Regions from separate parts of the Homo sapiens genome. Here region 2 is linked to region 1. A link means that fine-mapping ties the variant in region 1 to the expression of a gene that starts in the linked region. Tissue or cell type: sun-exposed skin. Region 1 holds a variant in brackets; the other region holds the start of a gene. All regions are shown on one strand. Distances are between the middles of the regions.

Region 1 (8,108 bases):
AAGCCAAAGGAGTTTAGGACTCCAAGCTTATTGCCACTCAAACGTGCCATGTTCATTTATCACTTTATGCCTGGCTCTTGCACACTTGTCCTCACATGTTTTTATTCTCATAAAAAAACCTGTATCTGAGCACTAATTGTTATCATCCCCAATTTATAGGTGAAAAACCAAGCTTAGAGATAATTGCCAAGGTGGCATTTTACAATTCAACACCATTTTTGTTAACTCCAAATTCCATAGACTTTTTACTCGATCTCACTGTCATTTGGATGGAGGAAAAGGAGAGGAGAAGAGAGGGAGAAACATTGTCTCATACTAGGAACAAATGACTACCAGCAAAGTCAATAGCTACCTACCATAATACCCAACTAGATGGTGATTCAGGATGAGGTGCCTCTTACCCAGACACACAGTAACTAAAGGCAAATTGTAAGTAGGGCAAGCTGAGTCTGGAAGAGGCCAGGTGCTAAGATGAGTGGTCCAGAACACGGGACATATTTGGCCAAAGCCCACGCGTGAAACACAAACTGGTGCTACTGGGACACAGGGCAGTAGAAGACATGGTAAGAAACTTGAGGCAAGCGATGGCTGGTCAGGGTACTGGATAAAAAAGAAGGGCACAAAATGTGACATAGGGGACTTGATAATAATTCTTGAGTAGAAGTATGAGGGAGAGGCAGGACCTCTGTGAGGGTCTTAGGCCAAATGCTGGCTTCATGAATGGGACAGGATGACGTGGGTAATGATAGATCATGGGTAGGTAGAAGACATACGTGGAGGTGAATCCTCCCAAGTGCTCAGATTGGGACTCAGGATTCCTTCTTCCACCTACCCATGGGGAGGCCCTGCAGTGTCTGGGGCCCAGGATCTAAAGGGTGATATTTATTCTCCAAGGTGCCTGACCACACCTGGCCATTTTATATCATTATTTAACTCAACCACTACCAATGTTATGGGACCCTTAAAAAGAGATTGATTGACTGATTGATTTGCTTATTTATTTAAGAAACTGAAGCGTCTCTTCCCTATGTGAATTTTGTCTCAAAAAGGATTCTGTCGTATATATTTTAGAACTTAATCTTATAATATTGCAATATTTTTATCCAAGTCTTTTCCAAACATTGGATTTTTGTGAGATTTGAGGATTAAAAAAAATTCCTTTAACTTCTACCATTTTGCCATCTTTGGAGGATATAAGCATGTGAGGAGCAATGCATGTGATTCCTATAAACTCATATTTCTTATTTTTAAACGCTGGCATTATTTGGGCTGACATCTCCTCAGCCCAAATGATGAAAAGTTTTGGCAGCTGTTTATTTTACCATAATCAAATCCATGCAAGATTCTGAGTCCTGAAGAATGCTGTTTAGAAAAAATTCTAGTAAGGACAGATCATTATATTCAGCATCATGGCACCTTAGATGTCAAGTGCTGTCTTCCCTTGTCAATGCCCATCACTGCTACTCACTCATATGATCACGTGGTCATCCTGTGAACAAGGCAGGTTAGATGAGCAAGCTGAGACTAAGCTTTCTGAGACTGAAATTTTTCCTTTGTCAAAATTGGGTGAATACCCAATTTCCTATTCAAACATTAATATAATTTGAGCTAAGGTTAGGATTATCCAGCCCCCACTCCCACGCATTGTCTGGGTAGATAAACCTCTCAAAGGAGAAAACTGGAAGGGAAATAAGGTACATTTAAATTTCAATCTCTGGCTTGATAGATTGGTATTAAATTTGTCTTTAATGACTCTTATCCTACATTCCTATCTTATTACAGTCAGCTGCAAAAGAAACAACAATCCTGAATGTACCTTAAAGGGCACAGGAGGATTAAGTAATGGATGAAGAATGTCCTGACAAGTCTGTCAGGCTTAAACTTTGGAACATGCAGAACATGCCTCAGAGTCTCAGGAGCAATGGGCCCAGTGAACAATATCATTGACATTCTGGCTTTGATTTTTTTTTTTTTAAGGAAAACCTATTTTAGGCCTTCAAACTTTTGTTTTCATTTTACTGTATGTTGTAAACTCGAGCTGCACTGTTCTTAATGGAAGCCACTGGCCATTCATGGTTTTTGAGCACTGGACATGTGGCTAGTCCCAGTGGAGATGAGCTGTAAGTATAAAAAATGCCCCAGATATTGAAGACTTCATGCTAGGCAAGGAAGTAAAATTGCTCATTAATAATTTCATATGGGTTACATGGCAATATTTTTGATGTATCGTGTTAAACAAAATATATTATTATAGTTAATTTTACCTGTTTCTTTTAGTTTTCTTTTTTGAGACGGAGTCTCACTCTGTTGCCCAGGCTGGAGTGCAGTGGTGCAATCTTGGCTCACTGCAACCTCCACCTCCCAGATTCTCCTGCCTCAGCCTTCCAAGTAGCTGGGATTATAGGTGTGTGCCACCACATCTGGCTAATTTTTGTATTTTTAGTAGAGATGGGGTTTTGCCATGTTGACCAGGCTGGTCTGTAACTCCTGACCTCAGGTGATCCACCCGCCTTGGCCTCCCAAAGTGCTCGTATTACAGGCGTGAGCCACCGCACCCAGCCTCTTTTAGCTTTTTAATGTGGCTACTGTAAAGTTTAAAATTATGTTTTGGTTCACATGAGTGGCCTGCATTGTATTTCTTTCACATAGCAGTCGTCTAGAGAACAATTATTTCTTAAGAACTGTGAAGAGTTTGAGATTTTATCCCACTTGCAAGCTAAGAAGTCACCCATCTACAGTTTCATGGATGCCGGTAGAAGACACCAGACTCCTGTGTCAAAGACAAAGGATAGTTTATAACTGACAGCAATAGCGGTAGCCAGAGTATCAGCATATTTGTACCACCTCACCAAGCCCCAATTTCCACAGGGCCAGATGACACCTATACATGTAGCGTATTGCATTACAGGAGAAAAACTTTGAATGTAGAGAACTCAAATCTTTTATGAAGTGCAGTAAGCAAACCTACTATTTGCTCTGGAGAAAGACACTAACTCTATTTTCTAAGGCTGTTAACTATAAAAATGTATTTGAAAAGATAATCCAGGAAAGAGGATAATCAGCGCATTCCTTGCAAGATGTACAGAAATGTGAGAGACTGATGGAGAATTATCTACTAACATTCTCATTTCCACAGGTCTGCTTTTCTTAGACTGTGCATTTCTCTGAGAATGTTGTATTTCTACAGACTAATTTAATACGTATTGTTCAAAAGCCGACATTAATCCCTAACTCGCTGTAATTTCTGGAAGGGTTTGTAATTTTCTTACTGAATTGCACAGCCTGGTCTTAACCCTTGCTTCTCTTCTTTGAAAATAACTCATTTTTTGGAAATCATTGGATTACAATTTCCTTAATGGACCTTTGGCACTGTGTAGAAAAGTAAGACAGGAATGAAAAAAAAAACACATAAAATAGGCTGATTCTCTGGGCACGCACATGGAAGACACATTTGGGAGCACTGGCACTTTAAAAACATTGGTTTCACTGAACAGTGATTGGAAGTTTCCTCAAAGTCTTGACTCCAGAGCCTCAGTTCCCATGACAGCATACAGGTCTGAACAGGCTCTGTCTTGCACCTTGGAGCATGACACCTTCAAAGCGTTTTACCAACATCAAGTAATTGATTTTCACAATGTAGTGGAGAGCTTGATCATTAAGTACTATTATCCAGATTTGACTGGCTTAATTCACTTGCCTCAGGCTCCAGCAGCCAAGTCAAAAGCAAGAGGTGGATTCAGAATATCTGGCTTCCATCCTGTATAACCCTAGGCAATGTCTGTGTTTTT[C/G]CATATAAAACCACTCCTCCCTGTCCTCTTAAACACATAAATTAAGTAGCAACTCATTCAGCAATACTATATTTTCCTACGCTGTTGCTTATAGACTATTTTTCTTCAGTTCTTTTAAAATGATAACTATTTGACTTTTAAGTGTTTTCATTCATTTAAATAACAGATGCACATGAAAGACAAAAGCGGGGCTGTGTATGCAATGAAAAGTATTCTACATTCCTTCACGGTCATTCAGCCACTTAGTTCTCCCTGGAGGCAGTCCTCCTTATTTCTAGTGAATATTTCCAGAGATAGACCATGCATTTACAAGTATGCCTATATCTTTTCTATTATGTAATTAATATGCATGCTATACATATGTTTCTGCATCTTGCTTTTTTCAATTTCAATTTATTTTTCTCTTTCTTTTTTTTTTTTTTTTTTTTTTGAGACAGTCTTGCCCAGGCTTGAGTGCAGTGGCGCAATCTCGGCTCACTGCAAGCTCTGCCTCCCGGGTTCAAGTGAGTCTTGTGCCTAAGCCTCCAGAATACCTGGGATTACAGATGTGCGCCACCATGCCCGGCTAATTTTTGTATTTTTAGTAGAGACAGGGTTTCACCATGTTGTCCAGGCTGGCTTTTTTCAATTTTCAACCTTGGAAATCATTCTATATCAGTACTTTCAGTGCCTCATTCTTTGAACTGTACCATGTGTTGTCAGTATCCTCTTTGGGAACATGGAGATCATGGAGTTTGTTTCTAATCTTGCTATTACAAACAGCATCTATTTAGCCAATACTTACCCGTACTCACTTTGTGCCAGGCTCTCCAGTGAATATCCTTGTACTTATGTCATTTCTTGCACTTCTGCTATCCTTCTGCAAATTATATCTAACACAAAGTAAGTATATTCACTGTAGTTGTAATTTTCATTTCCCTAATTATACATGAATTTGAGCATCTTCTCAATTGTCTGTTTTGCTATTAGTTTAATGATCTTTGACTTACTGATTTGTCACTTCTTTTAGAATTATGTGTATGCCCTTTGTTTTTGATATGCATTGAAAATATTATCCTGGTTTTAATTTCTCATTTCATTTTGTTTATTTTTTTCTCACCATGTAGATATTTTTATTATTATACAATCAAATTTATCAATCCTTTTTATATGACTCCTAGGTTTTTTGTCCTACTTGGAAGAAAAATTTTCTTATTGTGAGATAATTTAGAAAAATTTTTTTTTCTGGAATTTTATACTTTCTTTTTTTCTAGTTAAATCATTGATCCATCTTCAAATAATTTTGGCCTTACTTGAGGCAAGAATTCCATTTTCTTTTTTCCAGATGTCTTTTAGATTTTCCCAATACTGCAAAGACAATTTAAGAAAAAATAGTTTAACTTCAAAGAGTTTTATAATTTATTAAAAGTACTATATTTCTTTTACCCAGTGTGTATTCTATAGGAAGATGAGAAGATGTGTGTCTTTTCCCATCCAGTCCATTTTAGTAGTAAGTCCTTCCTTAATGGCCAGGGCGTAACTTGCCTATTTAATGGTCAAAGCATACTGGCACTCAGCTGCAAAAGAAAGATACCAGGAGATGCAGAATCAGAGGACCCAGCTAAGCTGTGCCTTGGATCCTGACACACAGAAACTATGAGATAATAATTGGTGTTGTTTTAAGCCACTAAGTTTTGGGATAATTTGTTACACAGCAATAGAAAACACAATGGGCACAGATGAAGGTAGAGAAGTCCATATAGAAGTGGAAGCTGTTAGATATGGGGTCTAAATTTCTTTTCAAAAAATCAATATGTCAGTATGTTCAATACTTTGCCTTCTACTTTTAAACTTAACTTCCTTATAAAGCAACCTTTTTCAATTATCTGCTCCACCCTGACGCATTCTGATTACCTGCTCAACCCTGACTCATTACCTGCTCTGTCATAACCATTTATCCCCCCAAATCACTCACCCCATCACTCTCTTTAAATTAGCTAATCGGAATTAGTTTAGCCTGTGCGGTCTAACCCTAGCCAATAGGGGAACGACACAGCAGCAGGGGCCATGTGCGTCAGGGATAAGAACCCCTTCCCCTCCCTTGTCCAAGTGTGCACTCACCATTGCTCCATCTGTAAGGGCGCACCCTTCTATAGAAGTAACTTGCCTTGCTGAGAATTAAAAAGAAAATTTTATATTCAAGTGCTATTTCTTTTGCAGCACCGAAACTTTATTTATAACAAAGCCAATGGTAGTTCTTTTCTGATTGCTTTCATTTTCTCAGTGACAAGGTCATCAGCTGACAGTGAAGGTGCAGCAAGATGTAATAGAGGTTAAGGAGAAATAAGAAGATACCAAATAGATGCATGGGAGAGTTAATGGACCAGGAAAGTATAGTCTGATTGACAAGTATCTTAGAGGCTAATGATACTTGTGGCCATAAATGTAATGTGAGAACAGTCAGCATAGCTGCGTAGTTACCTGCAGCCATATTCCCCTGCGTGAGTGCAGGCACAGAGCCAGCAGAGATTTGGCTGTCGCTGGAACTAGCGTTTTGCCAGGTGAGCACGATAAAGGAAGAAGAGGCAAGGAAATTGAAGGTGTATGCAAAAGAATAAATATTATGACATACCATGGAATATAGCCTTGGTACACTGAAAATGAAGAGTGTAAAAAGACAGTGCAATCAATCATTATAGGTCCTAGACTTGGCTAGGCTTTTAAAAATCAGAATTTAGCCGGGCGCGGTGGCTCACGCCTGTAATCCCAGCACTTTGGGAGGCCAAGGCGGGTGGATCACGAGGTCAGGAGATCAAGACCATCCTGGCTAACATGGTGAAACCCCGTCTCTACTAAAAATACAAAAAAATTAGCCGGGTGTGGTGGCACATGCCTGTAATCCCAGCTACTCGGGAGGCTGAGGCAGGAGAATCACTTGAACCCGGGAGGCGGAGGTTGCGGTGAGCCAAGATCGTGCCATTGCACTCCAGCCTGGGCAACAAGAGTGAAAGTCCATCTCAAAAAAAAAAAAAAAAAAAAAAAATCAGAATTTAGTGGAAGTGACCTGGAATAATGAAAAATGATGTACAATTATTTTAGAAAATAATGTAACATCATTGTGCAAAATTGAACATGCTTATGCTCTTTGGTTCATTAACTGTGCTTCTAGAAAAACTTTTGCAAATATGCACCAGAGACAAGTACAAGTTACTTACAGAAGAAGAGTTAATGATACCAAAAATGTGGAAATGGTACACAGAAAAAAAAAATGAGTGAATATATTTTGGTAAATTCACACCATAGAATGTTATACAGCAGTAAAAACAAACTTCAGCTATGCACAACAGCATGGAGATGTTGTATGTATGGTATGCATGAATACAATATATAGTATACGTAATGTGTGTATGGTTTTTACGTATCATACATAATGATACGTAAAACATGCAAGTTACAATAGACCACATGCATATAGTAGACAATACGCACTACAACAGACTACATGCAATATCATTTTTATGATGTTCAAAATAACTAAGCACTCTACTGCCTAGGAATACATACATATATGATAAATTCATTTTAAAAATCAAGAGAATTAAAAGCATAAAATTTGGGATAGTAATTCTTCATGCAGAGGGGATAAGGAAATGATGTGGTAAAGGAAAACAAGTAGATGTAAATAAAACAAATAATATAAGAAATGGTGGTCAAATATTGGGATTCTTGAAGTTGAGATTCTGGAGTGGGTAAGATTACTGATAAAAACAGGGCCCAGGAGGCATGAACATAGGAGTGAGTGACTGAGGTAGAATGGAGGATGAGATGTTGGAGGAGGGGAGGCTGAGAAACTGAAAGCTCAGTGTATGGGAAGACTTATTTGTGTGGATATTGAAATCACCAAAAATACAATGGGTGTAGTGATAGAAAAATGACGGTGATCCAGGAGGGAAGGGAAGTGATGTTAGAGCCAGCAGATGGTTGCCAAAAGGAAGGAAGGTGGCAGACAACATAGTCCCATGTTGAAACTGGGTGTTTTTATGGAGGATATGGGACAATGGCTTGGGAGCAGCACTGAGATGCAAGGAAGACACTCATCCTATTCCAGGCCCTGTGGCGCCAGGCACGTGGCTGAAAAACCAGTGACCTGTATAGAGGGCTGCAGGGGAGCAGTGTCTTGAGGGAGGAGCCAGTTAGAACAAGGACATGAAATAGGTATTTTAGAAATGAGAGGCCGGTCATGGTGGCTCATGCCTGTAATCCCAACACTTTGGGAGGCCGAGGCAGGCAGATCACCTGAGGTCAGGAGTTCAAGACCAGCCTGGCCAACATGGTGAAACC
Region 2 (8,108 bases), 150 kb after region 1:
CTATGATCCCCAGCATATTACTCAATCCCTACTGATCTCCAACATCTGGGTCTACAGGACCAGTAATAATAGAGTAGAATAGACCTCAAAGTATTATCACGAAGATTAAATTAGATAATGTGTGTAGAAGTACTTAAAAAACTATAAAGCCCTGTAAACATGTCTGCTGAAGGCTTCAATTCCAATCAACCTACATAATCTTTTCCAGCTAAACGGATATTCTTGGTTCTACAAAGTCTTGACTCATGTTGAGCAACTGGGGAAAATGTCACTTTTCAATATAAATAATAATTGATAACAATAACATGTGTGAAGCCTTCATTAAAAAGCAGACCCTCTTTAGCTTTAGAATGGAGAAAACATGTTGTTTTTTAAGGCATCATTATGTCCACCTGTTGGATCACTTGTGAGAAAAATAACAGTTGGTGTAATTTCTTGCCACGTGGGAATCTATTTGGGGGGGTTCCTCTTGCTGGTCTTCACCTTTGTGTTGGTGTTCCCTAGGCTTCTGCCCTTGCTCAGTCCTCTTCTGAAACCCCATCAGAGGTCAAAACAGAAGAACTTGCTAGAGCCACATGCTGATAACTAACTTGAGTGAAGTGAGCAGGACAAGTGGGCTGGAGAGTGCACACTCCACCTACAGGAGGCAGCCTTGGCTCAGTGTCAGCCGACCCCTTCAAGGGCCTTGATATTCTCAAATGGTCAGTATTTTTCAGTGTGAATGTGAACTCACCTAGTTTGTAAATGCTCCTCCTGCCCCTTGACTTCCTAACCCAAGTCTTAGTCACTTCAAGGCTTTGCATTTTACCTAAAACGAAAATTACTTCCCTGCTTAAATCCTGTGGCTGGCTCCCCATTGACTAGGAGTGGAGTTCAAGTTGTAAATTCGGCCCCTACTGGCCTGTTCTCCAGCAGGAACCACTACTGGCTCCCTGCCATGCCACACGATGGCTGCTATGGGCAGGCACCTGCTAGAAACAGTGTACACAATGTGGATCCAGGCACAGCCCCTTCTCTTAAGTTGCTACCAGTCTTTTTGACATACTAACTGGTAAATAGGCCTCAGCACACAGCGATCTCATAACCTTCTGTTGGGCCCTGTCCTGGCCCACTGCTTAATAATTACGATGCGTTTATGGACTCCTTGAGGAAAGAAACTGGTATTTGGAACACAGTGGTTGCTCAATGTTTGTTGAAAGAATAAATGAATGTGATAAAGTTAATTTTAGTTCACCTCTCTGTAGTTGGATGTTTTTAGGTTTCATATGACTATAACTTTAAAATAAAACCTAGTTATTTAAAAATTCAACTAACCAGACTTCACCACAGGTTTTTTTGTTGTTCTGCTTTTTACATTCATATTTAAGAAGAAAAAAAAATCAAAACAAAATGGAAGACAACTACCACAAGTTCTTCTACACCTACTGCCTCTAACACATCCACTGTTACACTCTGGGGTTAAGTCAGGTCCTGTTCATTGTCTTAGCATTCTACAATTTCCAAATTCTAGGAGGAGAATTGACATTCATGATGATCCTAAAATGCAAGCTATTTAAACAAGGAATGATTTTAAAACCATCATTAAATTAAAAATCAACTTGGAAAATATTGAAAAAAGATTAAAAGGTTTTCTAATCCATTTTGTTGCTCAAAAAAAAATCCAATTAACCAAAATTTCCTAATTTTGAATGGTGAAGTTTGACTGGCCTGTACCATGCTAAGATCAGCACGTGCTTATTACCGTAATCTCTTGTTCTTCAAACCAATAAATGCTCCCTTTAAGGACAGGTTGGATTTGGTTATTTCTTGTTATACTGACATTTTTTCCCAAAGAAAGAATTTACTGATAACATACTTCATCACACAATGTTCACAGAAAGATCTTGACAGATTTTTTCAGCAGGAACAGCATTTGCTGCTGGTGTTTGTGTTTTTTTCATTTGATAATACTAACATTAATATGATCCCCCAGCTTCTGTGTCTCCCACCCTGAGTAGCTTTAAATGAAATACAGCATACAGAGACTTGTTCATAATTTCTTGATCTTTCATTTATTTAGTGTTTCTAGAAGGAAAAAAAAAGATGTTTTAAAGCTCAAGGGACTTAACTATAAAGTAGAGGGGAAAAGGTAGAAATACGCGTTGAGGAAACCCAGGAGGCCCCCAGGCATGACTTTTGCTATAGCTTTCCAGAAAGAGAAAGTGGTGCTTAAAGAAGTAATTCCCAATGTTTCCCTCCAGACTAAAATTGGATGAACTCTGAACTGAGACTCTTTGCATCTCATTTTCTCATTAGGTTTTATTACAGCCAACAAAACTTTCAGTGGTGAATTACTTCCCTTCTCAACAGAATACCAGACTCCCATAATGTCTACACAAACTGAAATAATGAAATGGTTTTTAACCAAGCTTTAGGGATTAGAGAGGAAAAAAAAAGTGAAAAAGAAAGGGCACCAGGGTCTTCCCATCTCTATGCTAACCAAAGTGTGGTTTTCCAGCCCTTTTTCTTGCCTATTAACAAAAATAAAAACAAAAAATGGAAATGCCACTGGGCTTGAAACCCCATTTAAAATCAGATTTCTCTTTCGAGTTCCCTTGCAATACAAGTCAAAGTCATTTCCACCAAAAAAAAAAAGCGGTGGGGGGGGGGGGTGTGCAAATTAATCCTAAACTCATGGCTCAGATAGGACCTGGTATAGTAAATAAATGCTTTTAAAAGTAGTCATGGCATTGAGAAATGGCTCCATGCACCTAAACCAGAGGCACCAATGTAAAAACTAGTAATTGTGTTTTAACACAAAAGATTGAAAAGCGTTTTGTTTCACATCCTAATATTATTCCACCCACTTAAAAAGAGTTACTTAATATTGACTCTGTATTAGGTATAAGACAAGTTCTTGCCCTCAAAGAACTTATAATTTAGTTGAGAAACCAAAACTTAACATGAGCTTAAAAAGAAGGATGCAGTACAAAACATGGTATAATTAAGTGCTAAACAATGTAGTATAGATGCTCAGTGACCTAGGAGATCAGAGGAAGGGAAGGGTCACTGAGGGCTGGGAATGTCAAAAGCATGTACTTTCAGTAAGTTCTTAAAATGATAGCATGTTAGAAAGCTGTTATAATTGCTGCTGATTTGTAATTTTAAAGCATTGACATGATTCACCATTGCTTTCCAACCAGTAGCTGTTTAAAAGGACATACAGTTGAGGGTGAAAGGAGATATTTCTTTATGATCTCCAGAGATTTGTATTGAGGGGAAAAAAGACATACTTTCTTGTTGAATAATAGACCAAGAATTGAGCATATTTTGCATGGGGAATATTAAATTCAGTGAACAAGAATCCAAACCTCAGGCTGTGATTCTGGTATAAATTTTTGTTTCTAATGAACCATTTTCTTCCTTCTAAAGAAGATTTAAGTTTTGGGAATAAGTCACCTCAAAAAAATTTTTTTTTATTTTCTAATATCTATTTTCACAATTTATTTTTCTTTTAAGAAAAGTGGACTAGAAGCTCAAGTTACCTTCTCAAGGCAATGAGAATTTTTTAGCTCTAAAAAAGTTGTGTGTGGTAGGGAGAACATTTAGCATCCTTTAAAATGGAGACATCTGAACAGCAACCTATCTTTTGAATCACCAAATCTCAAGTGTACTTTGCACTCTTGGTCTTAAAATGCTTTTCATTTTCTAGTTTGGCAAAAATTCCAGTCTCTTTACATTTGCTACCTTTTCCGTCTTTGCAACACAGGCAGTGTGAGCTAAATTAGGTTTGTTAAAATGAAGTTTTGAAGTTTCAACTGCTGAAATAGAGGCATGTCCCTAACTTTAGACAAATTTAGAGAATCGTAGTAAGCATTATTTTTTTTCTACATACTTGTCTGCATTCAGTGTCTTCCCAAGAAACGTCAGTTAATTCCCCGATTCGAAAAAGGAACTTTCTCGTAACAGTTGTACAACCAGGCTAAAGAGCACACCCTCGTCTTCCCTGAAAGGGAGGAAACATGCAATAATGTGAGGTAATTAAATTTAGCCTTAGAAAAGTCTTTGAAACGTTCTAATCAAGACTTTCAGCTTTCCGATTGTGTGCGCTTTATTTTTCAATTCTTCCTAGTCCCGGTTTTGCATTTCTAATGACAGTGAACTGACAAAGCGTGAAAGTGGTCTAAGGAGCAAAACAAAGCCAGCAAGCCTGCTTCTGGTGTGCCAAGATTAATCAATATTCCAGAAACCTCGGGGTTTCCCCCTCCTCCCTGTGCGGTTTCCATTCCCCACTCCTCCTTTCCCGGGCACAGACTCCTCCCCTTTTCTTAAGTTGCCCTGATAGTAACTTGCAGTTTCAGAGCACATGCACACTGTCAGGGCTAGCCTGCCTGCTTACGCGCGCTGCGGATTGTTGCTCCGTTGTACCTGCTGGGGAATTCACCTCGTTACTGCTTGATATCTTCCACCCCTTACAAAATCAGAAAAGGTAAGTGTCACATTCTGTGTTCCTGCTGGGTTTAATTTCTCCTTTCACTTCTCTGCCGATGTATTTTGCCTTCCAAGCAGAGGAGTAGCCTGAATCAAGGCTAGCCATTTTGGTAGATAAAGTCCTTGTTAGTCATCTCACGTCGTGAGAGTGTGGTGTCTGTTTATGCCGGGTCCGCTGTTAATTCGGAGTTGAGTCATTCGGGGTGGATTGGGGGCAGATTGTGGCGCGAGATCTAGAAAAGGATCAAGGTTGAGCGGATCTGCTTAAAAGTGACTGGTAAGAGGAATCAGAGCTATTAGTTTAAAAAAAAAAAAAATCTGGTCTCTCCTATTTCCCGGTCTTCACTTCTCCCTAAGCATTTAATCCAGTGTGAAGTCTTAAACAAATTAGAAGTCTTAGTATCACTGACCCCAACTTGCAATTTTATTTAAAAGGCAAACTGTTAAGACAAGTCTTTTTTTTTCCTGCACTGGGATTGCGAGAAGTCATTTGCGAGGAGTCCTTTGGTTTCCAGTTACCTCCCCCACAGGCGCACACGCTGGCTGCTTGCGTTGGCAGCGACACACATCCATGGTACGGCTGGTTTTCACTCGGATTGATTATGGGAAGGGCTATGGATTAGAGCTCCTGTAAAGCACCAGGAGGAATCCCTTGATTTTTCAGAACAGCTGATTTCCACCAGGAAAGAGATTTACTGAAATGTAGTTAAATAGCGTGAGTGCTTTAAAGAAACCAGAAACCACAAGCTGTAATGTTTGGAATGAAAATTGGTTTCATCTCATCTGTTCTAGAAATCCTAAATTTTAAAACGCTAAAAAGTCAGCGATAGTTTCCTCGGAAGATTCCAGCATGTGTGTCACAAAGAAAAACACTACTTCATACTTCTACTTGTGATAAACGAAGCTGAATTGTGATTTCAGATGATTTATAGATGTGCCCAGAGCACTTTGCTTATTTCATGGAAAAAAAATGAAAAAATTACCCTGTAAAATAGTCACATGTATTTCCCATGTACTGTGGGCACTTGTGTTCTTTTTATGACCATATTTACTAGTAGATATTATTATATTTTTTTCTTAATGAAGAAAATAGCTGGTTACTTTACTGCATGTAACAGAGACAACTCCCACCTATCAGTATCTTAATTATTTTTATTGACCTGGTTATGCTTTCAACCATGTATACAGCATAATTTGTCAAGTAATGATTGAATACTTTCTGTGCATTCAGTTCAATTGGACATTTACTGATTGTGTACGTTGTGCAAGGCATCAGCTGGGTTCTGCGGGGGAGGGTGGGAATAGGGGTTCTCAGTCAGATCTAGCTCTGAAGAACCCTTTTATAGCCTCATTGGAAGGGGAAGGACGGATTTTTAAAAAGAAAATAGAATATATTCCGAATTTATGCACATTTCTCACACGTGGTCCACTAAAATATGCACACTGCAACCTTGAGGTCTGGTATTGTGGCTCTCCAGTCCTTGATTCCTGCTGAGATTATGCAATTTGCCAAGAGCTTGCCTGGTGTGGAGCAGCACTGATTTCTCACCCCTGGAGGCTATAACTCATGTCTCTTTTTCTCCCATTCTAGTTGTGTTTTCTAATACCAAAGAGGAGGTTTGGCTTTCTGTGGGTGATTCCCAGACACTGAAGTGCAAAGAAGAGACCCTCCTAGAAAAGTAAAATATGACTAAAAGCAATGGAGAAGAGCCCAAGATGGGGGGCAGGATGGAGAGATTCCAGCAGGGAGTCCGTAAACGCACACTTTTGGCCAAGAAGAAAGTGCAGAACATTACAAAGGAGGATGTTAAAAGTTACCTGTTTCGGAATGCTTTTGTGCTGCTCACAGTCACCGCTGTCATTGTGGGTGAGTCATTTGATTAAAAACAAAAAAACCTGTATCTTGTTTCTCTGGGGCATCTGGCTGCCCGGGGAATATTATCAGATGAACTAGTTGTAGGTATCAAAATGGTAGCCTAGGCTTTCCTCTGAACTTGATGATTTTTCTCCATAAAAATGACTGTTTTGGCTTGTTTGGAGCAATATATAGTAAACACATCATTAGGCATCATTAGGCATTATGCAAATCAATTGTGTGAGGAAGAAAAATAAATAAAATATTTTCCCATTTCATGTAAGGATAAGGAAGTGATCATTTAATCATTAGGCATGACAAAGCAAGCATGCTAGATTTGGCCAAAATGTAATTATATACAATGTCAGTTGCACTTAAAACTAATTTATACAATTAGTACACCTAAAATGACATGTTGGTTCCAAATAGTAATTATATTCTAACTGGTGCTGACTTGAAGCTGAGTATCAACGCTTAGGCACAGAGACCGAATATTTTATGTGTTTGCACTCTCTCACCCAGCAACTGGGAAAGGTAGATTGGGGAAAATGTTAACACAGATCTCTTTCATTCATTGCTTTGCAGAGCCTGCCATAACCAGCTATACCTTTTTTTGAATCATTTCCATCTCTTACTAATTTAGCAGGGTTGACAGCAATCTGTACTAATAAAATATTATTGTTTTGTTTTGTTTATTGATCTTAAAAGTTATAGTTTATTACTTATGGGTGGCATTGATCCTACTTTAAAATATAGCTGAAAAAACCTACTTATTTGGAATTTTTGACCAAACCAATACAGAAATCCTTAGATTGACAAACATATACGCCAATGCCAGGTTGTAAAAATATTCCAACTTAACCTACCAATTTGCCACCAAAAAAGAGGCATTCAGTACCGTTTTAATCTCTACTTTGGAGTTTGCCAAGATTTCCATCAACTTTAAAGAGGTAATGATTTAATAAAGATTAAGAAAATTCTGTAGTGTGTAAATATAACTTTTTTCAAGAAAATTGAATTCTTAAATTGTAGACAAATGAAGTATAGCAGGAGAGTTTGTCACAAGATTTTAGATACATCCCATTTTAACATCATTGTCTTCCATTAGTAATCACTGGTGATTAATGATGGTTCAATTAATTTAGAGATATTCAAAGAGAACATGTCCTAACTGACCCAGAGAAGTAATGGCTTTCCACAGTAGGTTTCCAGGCTTGAATATATTCCTGGGTGAAATATTTCAGTCCCACATCATTGTCCTGGAAGTCAATGCAAAATACAGTCTGCTTGCCTCATTTGTCACTCTGAATCAAAGTCATTGCCAAGCCAAGCAATAGCTGCATAATAATAATTGCAAACATTTATATAGTACTATTCCAGCTACTCTGTAGGAGTTTTGTTTATATTAGCTCACTTAATCCTCAAACAAGCCTATGAAGCGAGTGAGAAGGTATGATTACTATGATCTTCCTCATTTTGTAGATGAAACTGACTGTGGAGAGATCAAGCAATTTGCCCAAAGTGACAACACTAGTAAACTCTAGAGCTGGAAGTCAAATTCAGTCTAGCACCGGAGGCCATTCTCTTAACCACTCTATTCTTCCTCTGCTCTGCTGCTAGTTGACATCTTTTAAGAGATGCCAGGAAGAGAAATACCCTCATGAGTTGATGAAGGCCAGTTAGCTAGCAGTGCATTCACACAGCATTGTCATTTAACTGCATGATTTACCCGGTTACCTCAAAAGAAAACTTACAGTTCTCCTATAGACCATTAAGCCACTTC

Which allele goes with the higher level. Positions count from the first base shown, and alleles are read on the strand shown. Sizes are in standard deviations (SD) of each study's normalised expression.
With allele G in place of C in region 1, the expression in sun-exposed skin of the gene that starts at base 4,339 in region 2 is lower (small effect, 0.34 SD a copy in GTEx).

Evidence for each region. PIP is the estimated chance that this variant, and not a neighbour inherited with it, causes the effect.
Region 2: it holds the start of SLC1A3, and the variant in region 1 is fine-mapped to the expression of SLC1A3 in sun-exposed skin (GTEx, PIP 0.99). The same link has a PIP of 0.9 or more in esophagus mucosa.

What each region holds. Positions count from the first base shown.
Region 1 is chr5:36,448,935-36,457,042 of GRCh38, forward strand. No RefSeq gene overlaps it. Among named protein-coding and RNA genes, the nearest start is that of RANBP3L, 150 kb to the left of the region's middle. The variant C/G (reference allele first, on the strand shown) is at 3,789.
Region 2 is chr5:36,602,268-36,610,375 of GRCh38, forward strand. SLC1A3 (solute carrier family 1 member 3) reads left to right here and starts at 4,339. Exons shown (of 10, transcript NM_004172.5): 1 at 4,339-4,468; 2 at 6,062-6,337. The coding sequence starts at 6,157. RefSeq lists an enhancer at 4,446-4,545.